3 separate regions of the Homo sapiens genome follow, and regions 2 and 3 are each reported to be linked to region 1. The links are microRNA targets in miRTarBase. Many come from high-throughput screens and were not tested one by one. Region 1 holds a microRNA gene; each other region holds the end of a gene's coding sequence.
Evidence for each region. The annotated mature microRNA hsa-miR-6893-5p reads CAGGCAGGUGUAGGGUGGAGC and lies in region 1 at 2,580-2,600, opposite strand. An mRNA with a match to its seed (bases 2 to 7 or 8) in the 3' UTR can be bound and repressed. Matches are read on the target gene's strand: a 7mer-m8 pairs with bases 2 to 8, a 7mer-A1 pairs with bases 2 to 7 and ends in A, and an 8mer does both.

Region 2: the mRNA of IL17RB is a reported target of hsa-miR-6893-5p. The part of its 3' UTR that is shown has no 7-base or 8-base seed match.
Region 3: the mRNA of POLR2F is a reported target of hsa-miR-6893-5p. Seed matches in the 3' UTR shown: 8mer at 2,670-2,677.

Annotation. Positions count from the first base shown.
Region 1 is chr8:144,433,015-144,437,162 of GRCh38, forward strand. It overlaps MIR6893 (microRNA 6893), which reads right to left and starts at 2,605; the gene lies at 2,537-2,605. It overlaps TONSL (tonsoku like, DNA repair protein), which reads right to left. Exons shown (of 26, transcript NM_013432.5): 14 at 4,013-4,085; 15 at 3,743-3,906; 16 at 3,544-3,667; 17 at 2,644-3,404; 18 at 2,460-2,536; 19 at 2,003-2,156; 20 at 1,797-1,875; 21 at 964-1,265; 22 at 574-745. It overlaps TONSL-AS1 (TONSL antisense RNA 1), which reads left to right and starts at 2,154. Exons shown (of 6, transcript NR_109770.1): 1 at 2,154-2,426; 2 at 3,737-3,981.
Region 2 is chr3:53,864,996-53,868,995 of GRCh38, reverse strand. It overlaps IL17RB (interleukin 17 receptor B), which reads right to left. Exons shown (of 11, transcript NM_018725.4): 11 at 3,202-4,000. The coding sequence ends at 3,688. It overlaps ACTR8 (actin related protein 8), which reads left to right. Exons shown (of 13, transcript NM_022899.5): 13 at 134-1,930. The coding sequence ends at 277. Among named protein-coding and RNA genes, the nearest start is that of ACTR8, 15 kb to the left of the region's middle.
Region 3 is chr22:37,966,989-37,970,988 of GRCh38, reverse strand. It overlaps POLR2F (RNA polymerase II, I and III subunit F), which reads right to left. Exons shown (of 5, transcript NM_021974.5): 4 at 3,819-3,890; 5 at 1,677-3,364. The coding sequence ends at 3,274. MIR6820 (microRNA 6820) reads right to left here and starts at 3,426; the gene lies at 3,365-3,426. RefSeq lists enhancers at 2,173-2,467, 2,850-3,350.

The sequences.
Region 1 (4,148 bases):
ATCTATTGCTCCCAGGTGCCAGGCCCTCCCGGAGAGCCAGGTCTGGCATCCCAGGCCCCTAGACGTTGTTTGTTTCGTTTTTTTGACACGGAGTCTTGCTCTGTCGCCCAGGCTGGAGTGCAACGGCGCGATCTCGGCTCACTGCAAGCTCCGCTTCCCGGGTTCATGCCATTCTCCTGCCTCAGCCTCCTGCGTAGCTGGGACTACAGGCACCGGCCACCACGCCCAGCTAATTGTATTTTTAATAGAGACGGCGTTTCACCGTGTTAGCCAGGATGGTCTCGATATCCTGACCTCGTGATCTGCCCGCCTTGGCCTCCCAAAGTGCTGGGATTACAGGCGTGAGCCACTGCGCCCGGCCTAGACGCTTTTTTCTTAAGGGATGGGGTCTCACTATGTGGGCCAGGCTTTCCTGGAACTCTTGGCTCAAGCGATACTCCCGCCTCAGCCTCTCAAGTAGCTGGGACCACAGGTGTTGCCCCTGTGTGCCCAGCCTGGGCCCCCTCTGAAAGTCCTGGAAACCCTCAATGCCCCAGGGCTAGGGAGTGGACAGGGAGTGCCTGGTCAGCTCACCTTGGAAAGCACTACCCAGTGCTGTCTGGTGGCTCAGAAAGAAGCTGGGGCCGAAGCCACACGCCTGCAGGCGCAGGGTGCTGAGTAAGGGGCAGGCGTGCAGGAGGGAGGCCAGGGACTGGCCACAGCCGTCCCCCAGGGGGTTCATGCTTAAGTCCAGCTCCTCCAAACTCTGTGGAAGACACAGGCTGGCAGTGAGCCCCCAGCAGTCCCACGGACAGGGTCCCCCTTGGGGCTTGGCTTGGCAGTCTCTTCCCCACCTTGCCTGGCATAGCCTATTACAGCCGGGCACTGGCTGGCTCTCCCAACTACCCTAGACCACCCAGGGACCTGCAGAATGGGAACCCCAACTCCCCGCTGTTGAGGGCCTGCTGCTCTCTGTGCCTATACCTGCAAGGTGGCTTGGCCTGGGAGCCCCATGGCAAGCTGGCGCAGGCCTTCGGGACCCAGGTGATTGGAGGAGAGGTCAAGGAGGGCCAGGCTGGGCATGGTGCCCAGGGCAGCCACCAGCTCAGCCACACACTTGTCCCCCAGCCGGTTCCCTGCCAGGCGCAGCTCCCGGAGTGCTGTGTGCAGCTTGAGGGCCCGCAGCAGGGGTGTAAGCTGGGCCTGGTCCAGGGCCAGGGAGCAGGCGCTGAACGAGAGGCCCAAGCCCTGGAGCTCCACGGCCTGCAGCACCTGTTGGTGCTCCCCTGCGGGAGGGATGTGATGTCACCAGGGTAAGGCCGGCCCTTTCTGCCCTCTGAATCCCAGAGGGCAAACCAGGCAGCCCCTTTTCAACAGCCCCAGGGGTCACCCACCAGACTTGCTGTAGAGCCCACTCGCACATGCCTGTGGGTCTAGCACTGTGAGGCCCTGGGGGCCGGGGTGGGTCTGCAGCACCCTGAGCTCCACCAGTCACTGCCAGATTCCACACCCCCCGGGACAAGCTTTCTGGGAAGCTTCCCCAGCAGCTCCCAGCCCATGCCAGGCCCTCCTCCTTGGGTTTGACTTTCCAGGCTTTCGGCTGCTTTTTGCCATCTCCCTGTCAGCAGATCATGGGGGCTGAGGGCTGTCCTCTCCCTTCCACCCACACATCCAAGTGCAGGACACAGCACCCACCAGGCTGGGGGAGGTGCACCCCAAAACACCCGAGGCCCAGGAATGAACCGGGCTGGTGGAGCCTGTGTGCCCAACCCCCTTGTACGACCTCACCCAGAAACTGCAGCTCTCCTGGCCCTCACCTTGCCCCAGGCTCTGGCAGGCCCTGCGGTAGCGGTCAGTCAACGGGGGCAGGTCCCACGAAGTCACCTCAGCCAACACCTGGAAGGCACCGTCATGAGCCACCTGGGGGCTCCCCCGGCTCACCTCATCATTGCTCTGCAGCCATGAGCCACCCGGGGGCTCCCGGTGCCTGAGGCCCTGGCTCCCCCTCCGCTCTGCGGCTCACCTCGTCATTGCTCTGCAGCACATCAGGGATGAGGTCCTGTGGGGCCAGCAGGGCCCCCTCTTTCCGTAGGGTGAGCCTGGGCAGCAGCCCGCAGGTCTGGTAGTAGCGCTGGGCCGCCTGCTCGGCCAGCCAGGCCACAGAGTGGGTGTCACTGCTGCAGGGACAGAGGCGCTGCTGCTGCTGCCTGCACACAGCCGGGGTAATGCCCCAGGGACCCGCCATCCCTGCCCAGGGCCAGAAGCCCCCTCAGCTGCTTCTCCCATTCCCAGGTAGCCGGCCCCTCCTCTCCCTGCAGCCCAGCACACCACCAGCCCCTCTGCTATTCCTGGGGGCCACAGGATCCTCCTGGAACACACCAGGGAGCCCTCGTCACACGCCCCACCCTGACATGCAAACACGAGCACCCTGGCATGGAGCTGCACAGGTGGGCTGCGGGGTAGGGCAGGCGATGCCTCACCTGTGTGGGACAGGGATGAGGAAGAGATGATCCTGAACTTGAACTCGAACCCGGATGGGAGGGGGCGGGGCCGGACCCTGGCAGGTGAAGGCAGCAGGGCTGAGTCAGGAGCCACAGTGGGCTCCACCCTACACCTGCCTGCCCGGAGTGGGGAGAGGGCTCTGCTCCAGGTCTGCATACCCACCAAGGGCTGGCCTGCCGCAGAGCTGTCCCCACTGGGCTCTGAGACCCTGGGGGTGCTGGGGCTCCCTGGAGGTTCTGAAGCCAGGCTGCTGGGCCCTGCGTTAACTGGCGCACTGCAACTCTGCATGCAGGTCAGGCGGACCTGCTTGGCTCGGGCACGGGGCCTGCTCTCCTCACTGTCCGACCCAGAGGTACTACTGGGCCTGCGGTTGTCTCCAGTGCCCCGGGGGCGGGGCCGGCGGCTGCGGGTCAGGGGCATGTCCAGCTCCAGCCAGTCCCCGGCCAGGCACTCCTCCTCCGGGATGAGCGCTGCCTGGGGGGCAAGGGCTTTGCTGTGGCCCCGCGGTGGGCCAGGCCCCAGCCGGCTCTGAGCACTGCCCACACCCCGGATGGCTGCCTGGTAGGCTGCCCGGCTGGTGCTGGCTGTGGCTGCTTCCCTGTTGCTGGCGGGGCCAGGCGTCCAGGCTGCCACCCGTTGTGCTGTGGCCGAGCACCGAGGCCTCTTCTGGGACGGCCGTGCGGGGCCTGCGCTGTCCTCGCCTTCTGAGCTGCTGCTGCTGCTGGCTGGCCCATGCCTGCTCCTCCGAGGCCTGGCCATGGCTGGTGCCGCCTGCCCTGGGGAGACCCTGACATGGGCCTGAGAGGCCTCTGGGAGTCTAGTGCTATTAGAGGGGGGTTCTGGGCAGGGGCTCAAAGGAGGAGAGGTCTCGGGGTCAAACAGAAGGCTGCTTGGGGTGTGGAAGGCCTGGGAGCTGTGGGGATCTGTGGGAGAGAGAATGCGTGTTGAGGCAGGGGCCCGGCACCTCCCGCTCCACCTGTGATGGAGCATCTCCCGAAATCAGGGCCCGGGGACTCTCAGCGTAGGCACAGCAACCCCAGGGACAAGGGACGCCCTGCTTGCCTTGGCCCGAGGCAGCCGCCTGGAGCAGCATCTCCATGGCCCTGGCCTTCTGCCGCGTCTCCAGGTCCAGGTCCCTGCGGTACAGCTTCACCCACTGCTGCAGCGTCTCCAGCGGGCTGAGGCCCTGTGTGGCATCAGTTGAGCAGGGGCACAGCAGCCCCCATAACCTCGCCCTTGCCCTCTGCCCCACCAGGCTCACCTTTCGAGTGCGGAGGGTGACGGACGCCCCCCGTTCAAGCAGCAGCTCAGCCACCTCGAAGTGGCCACAGTTGAGGGCATCGTGGAGGGGGGTGATGCCTTCGCAGCCCTGGCCACCTGGGTCGTCCACTGCGGCCCCGTGGTCCAGCAGGAAGCGGACAATTTCTGCAGACCAGGAGACGTAAGCCCAGCTCCCGATGCCCCGCCAGGACTGACTCTTCGCCCCACGTGTCCACCAAGGTGCGCCAGGCTCCTTCTGTCCCTTGCTCACCTAGATGCCCGTAGTTGCAGGCCTCGTGCAGAGGTGTCCAGCCACAGTAGTCCCGAGGGTTAAGGGGGTGGCCCTGTGACCAAGGACAGGAAGGAGCCTGGCCCTGTGTACCTCACAGCCTGGCCCCAGCCCCGTG
Region 2 (4,000 bases), not on the chromosome of region 1:
TCTTTAATACAGGGTGAAAGCCTGGCTTACTAGGTATTGACTCAGCAGGGATTTTTCTCGGCCCCATATTCAAGTAAATGATTGAGTATATGTCTTATGTGATTAGGCTGAAATGCCTTCATCCCTTCTGTAGGACATGGACCCCCGGCTGATTGCATGGAAAGGAGGGGCAGTGTTGGCTTGTTTGGATACAACACAGGAACTGTGGATTTATCAGCGAGAGTGGCAGCGCTTTGGTGTCCGCATGTTACGAGAGCGGGCTGCGTTTGTGTGGTGAATGGGGAGGAAATGTCACTGCCGAAGACCAAAAACAAGCTTCTTGGTATAAAAGACTCTTACAGAATATGTGTATTGTAATTTATTGATCTGGATGCTTAAGTGTCATGGACAGTAAATGAATTTGAACTTTATGTTGAGGACATGACATTGGTTTGAAAATATAAACTGCTTTTGAGCAGTTTAGTCAGGGCATTTGAGAATAAATAGGAACTTTCTCTTCAGTTGTAAACTCTCTTGCCCTCTCTCAGGGTCTCATAAACTCCCCAGTGATGTAAACGTTGCTATTGAAGGTTCTCATGTGGTGAAGCCCTTCATTTAAGTTGGCTTGAATCTCATCAGCAGGCAGCCTCATGCAACCATGAGGGATAGTATGTGACGAGGGAGAACTGTCCACTCATGCCATTTTCTCTCTTGTCTAGTATTTCATTAGGATCTAAAGTTGTCTGAGTTAAATGCACTTATGTGACTCATGTGTCCTCTTAGAATCCCAAATAGGGGGAAAAAGTTTTGGTGGTTTTTGTTTTTTTTTTCATTTTCTGTTGGATTACAGAAAAAGAATGGGACCCATTCAGGTCTCGATTTCCAAAGGTAAAGATGGAAGGCTGGGCAGACTGGCTTTTGTTACCTGACATGCCGTAGGGTGAGCTTAGAGGAAGAAAGAAAACAATTTTTATTTGGCCAAAACAGAACAAATGCTGAAAAGGAAATCTTGTTTTTTTCCTAAAGCCAAATAGAAATGATTTGGGTATAATTTAAGAGTCCTTGTGTTGTACAGATATGGTGACTGATGTAGTTATTAATACTACCAACTTAGTCATCAAGCCTCAATTTTCCTTTACCTGAAGGATTAAGTGAAAGCTTTTGGAGTTCATGATGTTCAGTATGATCAGTTAACCTTAACCTCTGAGCATCCTGAAGCAAAATCTAAATAATGCAGCTATTACCACTGGTGGTCCAGGCTCTGGTGAAGCCCTCTGAGCCCAGGAGGAAGAGAAAGCATTGTCCAGAGGTAGGAACACAGTCTGGGAGCCCAGAGCTCTGGGAGGAGTGGGAAAATGCTGCTTCCTGCTGCTTGCTTCTAGGCACCTGCTTCCGCCATCTCACTTACCATGGCTAGAGATGGGGGTGAGACTGGGGAAGGACAAAAGCAGGGAACAGATAAGTGATGGAAATCAGAAGGGAATATAGAAAGAACTCTGGATGTGGAGAAATGCCGGTACCTGAGCATTTTGTATCAATGGGAGTACCCTCTGTAACTGCTCAGTAGGTTACAAATGAAGAGTCCACCAGTATTAGAAACAATTTAAACTTGCCAGTACCAACTGGGATGTGTGCCTTCAATTTGAAAATTGTATGTTTTATTTTTTAAATTTGTTAACAGCATTAATTTATAGAGTATTGATGTCATTTATGTTTCTGAGGTGTTTCAACACAATTTTGGATCAGCTGCCTGTTTGCAAAAACATAATATATTTCTGTTAAACAGTTCTTCACCTAACAGCATATTGCTCTTATAACTGGTAGAGCTGTTTCAAAGGAAGTTGGTTTCTGGTCCAAGTTTTGACCTAAACCATGTCCATCTTCTATTACCAGCACTTACAAGCACTGTGAAAACTGATCATGACAAATAAGTAAAATTTGCTACATTAAACATATTGCCTCAGCCATTACTAAGCGTCCACTTGTAAAGCTGGACACAGTTTTTACTTTATGCTTCATTTTGATTTTTTATCCGTAAGACATAAATTAGAAGGCATGAGGTGGCCCTTTAAGGATAATCTGCAAATATACACATTTTAATAGTCATCCATCTGAAATCGATCCACATTCCAGAGAAGATTCAGTATTGTGCTGTGTGAAATAAGCATTCCCAGAAAAAAAACATTTATGCTAATAATACAACATAACCTCTGCATTAAAGAAAAAGATGCTTTTAGGCCAGGCGCCGTGGCTCACACCTGTAATCCCTGCACTTTGAGAGGCTGAGGTGGGTGGATCATGAGGTCAGGAGATCAAGACCATCCTGGCTAACAGGGTGAAACCCCGTCTCTACTAAAAATATAAAAAGTTAGCTGGGTGTGGTGGTGGGTGCCTGTAGTCCCAGCTACTCAGGAGGCTGAGGCAGGAGAATGGCGTGAACCCGGAAGGCAGAGGTTGTAGTGAGCCGAGGTCACGCCACTGCACTCCAGCCTGGGTGACAGAGTGAAACTCTGTCTCAAAAAAAAAAAATTTAAAAAATTTAAAAAAGATGCTTTTAGAAGAGTAAAAAGTTGGAAGACAAAATGTGCATCTTTTATGTTCTGTCATTCTGTGGGGGTTTTTTCGTTTGTTTGTTTTAGACAGGGTCTGCTCTCACCCAGGATGGAGTGCAGTGGCACAATCACCGTTTACTGCACCCTTGACCTCCAGGGCTCAAGTGATCCTCCCATCTCAGCCTCCCTAGTAGCTGGGACCACAGGCTTACACCATCACACTCAGCTAATTTTTTAAATCTTTTGTAGAGATGGAGGTCTCGCTTTGTGACGTAGCCTGGTCTTGAGCGATCCTTTTGCCTTGGCCTTGCCAAAGTGCTGGGATTGGAGGCATGAGCCACTGCACCCACCCCTGTTTTTTATTTAAGTAAACCATTATAATAACTCATTTATAAAAAGGTTACTTCAAGAGGGCTTTCAACTTAAGAATTATTTTCATTTTGAACATGAAAAGTTAAATAGTAACTAAGAAACTGAGAACTCTGACAGTGACCTCTAATAGGTAACTTTAGGCAAAAGTAGACAAGTTTGTGGGTATTTTGTTGTTCATGTTAAAAGGCACCTGTACAAGAATCAAGATATGAATCTAGTTTGTAGAGGGAAGGTCTTATGCAAATACCAAATCATACAAGTGGTTACACATATAATAGATCATTTGGTCCAGTAAAAGTGGGTTCAGCTTGTTTATTCCCTACTTTTGTTATCTTAAAAACAATGATTTTTTGCATGTAATAGAAGGTTTTTCACTTAAGATGCTATTGAGTGAATCAGTGAGGGGTTCTTAGAGTTAGTATTCATTAATTAAACATAGAATATTAGCTAAACAGTTCTGGGTACACTGCAATGCATGGTCTATGGAAGACTAGATGTTTGGCTGAAGATGCTTTATTGTTGCATTATCAAAATGGTTATAGTTTTCAATTAAAACTGTAATTGATTTCTATGTATAAAACAGCTTTGAAGTTGTAAATGTAGTTTCCAATCGTTAGTTAATGCTACATTAGTTAGCAATATTTGAAAATTTTATTGGTATAAAATGTTTTAATTACTAAGGCTGTTTGTAGGCTGCATAGTAAGCTTCAGGATCATCACACGTTTTTTCCCTGTAATTGGTGGGATAGGAAGCCTTTAAGGTCTCTTGCTTCTCATGGGTGGGCTACAAGGAGCAGCAGCCATCGTGGCAGGCTTGTGATCTTTTTCCTGCTGACACCTGCTGCTTGACATGGAGAAGTTCTGCACAGAAAGCAGTGGCATCCTTCATGAGGTGGTACTTGGGGCAGACACTGAGAGCATTGTAATCGTCTTTTGTATCAATCTCTCTAAAGTAGACCACCACGTATTTGTGCAGATGAATCTGGCTTCTTAGATCACTGCAGAAAAGGTTAAAGGCAAGGGGGAAGAGGTCTTGAGAGTTCTCACTGGGACTGCCCTCGCTCTTGCCACAGGTACCATCGCACACACTGTTGACG
Region 3 (4,000 bases), not on the chromosome of region 1:
GCTCTTCAAGCAACCTCCCCAAAACTGCTGGTTCCCGTGAAGCTGGATGGTAACCGAAACCCCGATCTTTTAGACAATATCCATTGCAAAGTCATATCCAAATTGTATGTATGCTGTTTTTGTTTTGTTTTAGATAAAAGCAGGACTTTACACTGATCTTTAACAGATCTCACCTTGTTGGGTTTGACCCATTTCCCCACCTGTATTAAACTTTTTAGAACTTAGCTCTCCTTTAGAGCTTTATGTATCTGCAAACTTGAATAGCCTCATTCAAGTCACTAATAAAGGTCGAAATGAAGAGGGACACCTGTGTACAGCATTAAACGCCTCTCTCCACTGTCAGTCCTATTATCTCCACTCTTTTTTTTTTTTTTTTTTTTTTTTAGATGGAGTCTTGCTCTGTTGCCAGGCTGGAGTGCAATGTTGCAATCTTGGCTCCCTGCAACTTCTGTCTCCTGGGTTCAAGTGCTTCCCCTGCCTCAGCCTCCCGAGTAGCTGGGACTACAGGTGTGCACCACCACGCCCAGCTAATTTTTTTTTTTTTTTTTTAAGTAGAGACAGGGTTTCACCATGTTGTCTAGGATGGTCTCAATCTCCTGACCTCATGATCCGCTTGCCTCGGCCTCCTAAAGTGCTGGGATTACAGGCGTAAGCCACCGCACCTGGCCTATTATCTCCACTCTTTTTTTTTTTTTGAGACGGAGTCTCTCTCTGTCGCCCAGGCTGGAGTGCAGTAGCGGGATCTCGGCTCACTGCAAGCTCCGCCTCCCGGGTTCACGCCATTCTCCCGCCTCAGCCTCCCGAGTAGCTGGGATTACAGGCGCCCGCCACCACACCTGGCTAATTTTTTGTATTTTTTAGTACAGACGGGGTTTCACTGTGTTAGCCAGGATGGTCTTGATCTCCTGACCTCGTGATCTGCCAACCTCAGCCTCCCAAAGTGCTGGGATTACAGGTGTGAGCCACCACGCCCAGCTATTATCTCCACTCTTGAGGCTGTCTAATCAGTTCTAAAACTGTCTAATTACATCACCATGAAGCACACACTTCTCTGTCACAGTGGCATGGAGACTACTGATGCCTTGTCAAAATCAAGATTCACTGATCTCTGGCATTCTCTCAACCTACTGGACCAGTAACCATCGAAAAAAAAACTTATTTGGCAATATTGGTTCTTAGACACCCTATGCTAGTGCCCGATCTCCTCTTTATTATATAAGCACTTTTAAACATGGAGGGACCTATTCTAGAATTTTGTCATGGATCAATCAGTACTAACCTTATGTGTTTATAATCTTTACAACCCACCCTTTCCCCTTCATTGAAAGGCAGGACTTTTGTCCATTTGTGGTCTGTTCACTACTCCTGCTCGCCGTGGGATGAGGGATATGGAGCTGGCACAGTGGGGAGCAGGGGGCACATCCGGAAGATGACACTATCACCTCCAAGACCCCACATCTCATGAGAGTGAGTGGGAAATCACTGAGGATGTGGAAGGAGGGGAAATGACCCCAAGGAAGTCAGAAGACCTGGGTTGTGTGCATCCCTTAGACCAAAGGTTCCAAGTGTGCACAGGCCTCAGGAAGGCAGGAGCTCCACTTGTTAAAAAAGGGTCAGGTGTTTCTGGAAATGACTCAAGAGACTATGCCCAAACCCTAAGAAAACAGAACCAATAGTGGTGACCGGGACATTTTATTCAAGAGAAGTCAAAAGCCAGGCCCAGACAGCTGAATAGCAGGGGACTCCCCAAAAGAGGAGAATGGGAAGAGGAAGACAGGAGGAAAAACACCCCTTCTGTCCCATTTCCCTTGCACTCTATCCCCTAAGGGTTAACCCCCAATTCCCCTCCTCCCCAGCCCAAACCCCATCTCCCTTTAATCACATCTGATACTGAGCAGCCCAGCAGGGAACAAAGAGACCATTTAGAGAAATGGGGCCGAGAAAGTGACCCCCGCACTCTGGGGCGGCTGCCTGGATGCCAGCACAAAGGCGGCATTTCAGAGCTGAAATTTCAGCACCCAACTTGATTAAAGGATTCCACAGGCTTGGAGGAGGGTGGATGGGAGTGTGAAGTCCACTGCTCCCTGAATTAACCCTTCTCCAGGGCAGCGGACACCCCTCCCACCAATGCAGATCCTCACCATTCACTCCCCACATCCCATCCCAGGGCCAGGCTGCACCTAGGCCTGGAGGCCCTGCCTCCTGCAGAGGTTAGGGAAGCCCAGCTCCTCCTCTTTGAAGGGGAGCTGGCAGTGGAATGGAGGTTAAGGCTGGCATATTCAGGGAGCCAGTTTACCCTCTATCCCTGTTCATGTCAATATACACCCTCCCCCTGACCCCCTCTAGGAGGGAGGAGCCAGTGTGACTGGTCTTACCTCAGGTTGGGTAAGCAGGGTGGAGAAAGGAAGAGGACCCATTAGAACCTCAGGCAGAGGAAGGGGGAACTCCAGCTCTGACTTAATGTAACACCTGGAACCCAGGAGCACCACCACCCCAGCACCATGTCCCCAAGGCCTCAGGGGATCACCAGCCCCAAATAGGAGGGAAAGGATATCTTATAGAGGCTAGGAAGAAGGCATGGGTGTGGCACACCAAAGAGGTGGGCCACAGAGGACAGCGTGTGGGCAGAGTCCTGAGGAGGAGTGGGGACAGAGCCATGGGGGCAGGGGTAGGCAGGTGCTCGGTCCTTGCTCCAGCTGCTGACTTGCCCAGCAGGGCTCTGCCTGGGGAGGGTGGGAGATCAGCACACCCCCACGCTTCCTGCTGGGGCACTGCTCCTGAAAGGGGATCCGAGCCCACGATAAGAGGCTCGAAGCAGGTCCTTAGGAAACAATGGGTGGCTTGATGAGACCTGCTCTGTGATACTCCTGAGAAGGGAGAAGCCCCTGCAGCCAGTCCCCACTGGAAAGGAAATTGGGGGTTTCCGTGGCAACCAGCTCCCTGGGCACAAAGACTTGTCTGTCTGCTTGGAAGGCAGCTGAGGTGTCTCCCCTGCAGCAGCCTTTGCTCTGGGGAACAGGGAGATGGAGGGAAGGATGTGGGGGATCCAAAGGGGCTAAGGGCCCCTGGTGCTTCTTAAGGAGCTGACAGTCACAGGGCCACTGGAATAGGTGCATGCTCCACGCAGCATGGCGGTAACGGGGAAGCAACAGGTGGTGACATTGCAGATAAGCAGAGGGGAAGGGGGTTGGAAAGTTGAATATTTTATTATTTACACATATAAAGTGAGAATGAAAATTGGGCATGGGGCAAGGGCAGGAAGATGACTCCAGCTCAGTCGGTGATGATGAGCTCGTCCACCCCCCAGTCTTCATAGCTCCCATCTGGCAGGTAACGGCGAATGATGATGGGGATCTTTCGGGCCCTGTGGCAGGGGAGAAGTCACAAGTACATGAGGGCTGGTGACCCCAGCTCTGCCGCAGAAGGAACAGATTGTGTGCAAAACACAAGCAAAGAGAAGTCTTAGGAGCAGCCTCTTGGGGCTGATGAGTGTACTTTGTAAGAAAGCAATTACAAGAAAAAGAAAGTTTTTATATCAGACAAGAGGGGGAAGAATGACAGAATATTGGTAAGGCCTCCTGCAGCAGGAACAGGGAAATTCCAACAGCCAGAAGACGTCCATGTCTCATCAGTGCCCTCCCACTTTCCCTGCCTCCTCTTCTCTCTTCCTCCTACTTCCTGGTGAGCTGTTCCTAAGGATCTGTAGGAATAAGCATCAACTTCTCCAGCCAGGCAAGTGGGAGCAAAGGGTGCAACAGAGAGCCCAACAGATGCCTCCCAGAGATTTGGAGAAGTGAACCATGATTTGAGTGACTTACTTGAGTTCCTTCATGGCAATGAGCAGAGGATCTGTCTCCCCCTCCAGCTCCACCATCACAGGGGCACACATCCTGTAGGGATAGGGACAGGTGTTAGGGAGACTACAAACCCAGGGAGAAGGGCCCAACAGGCAGTGAGGGTGGAACGGCATCCTGGTCCCCACCTAGAAACGTCATCTTCT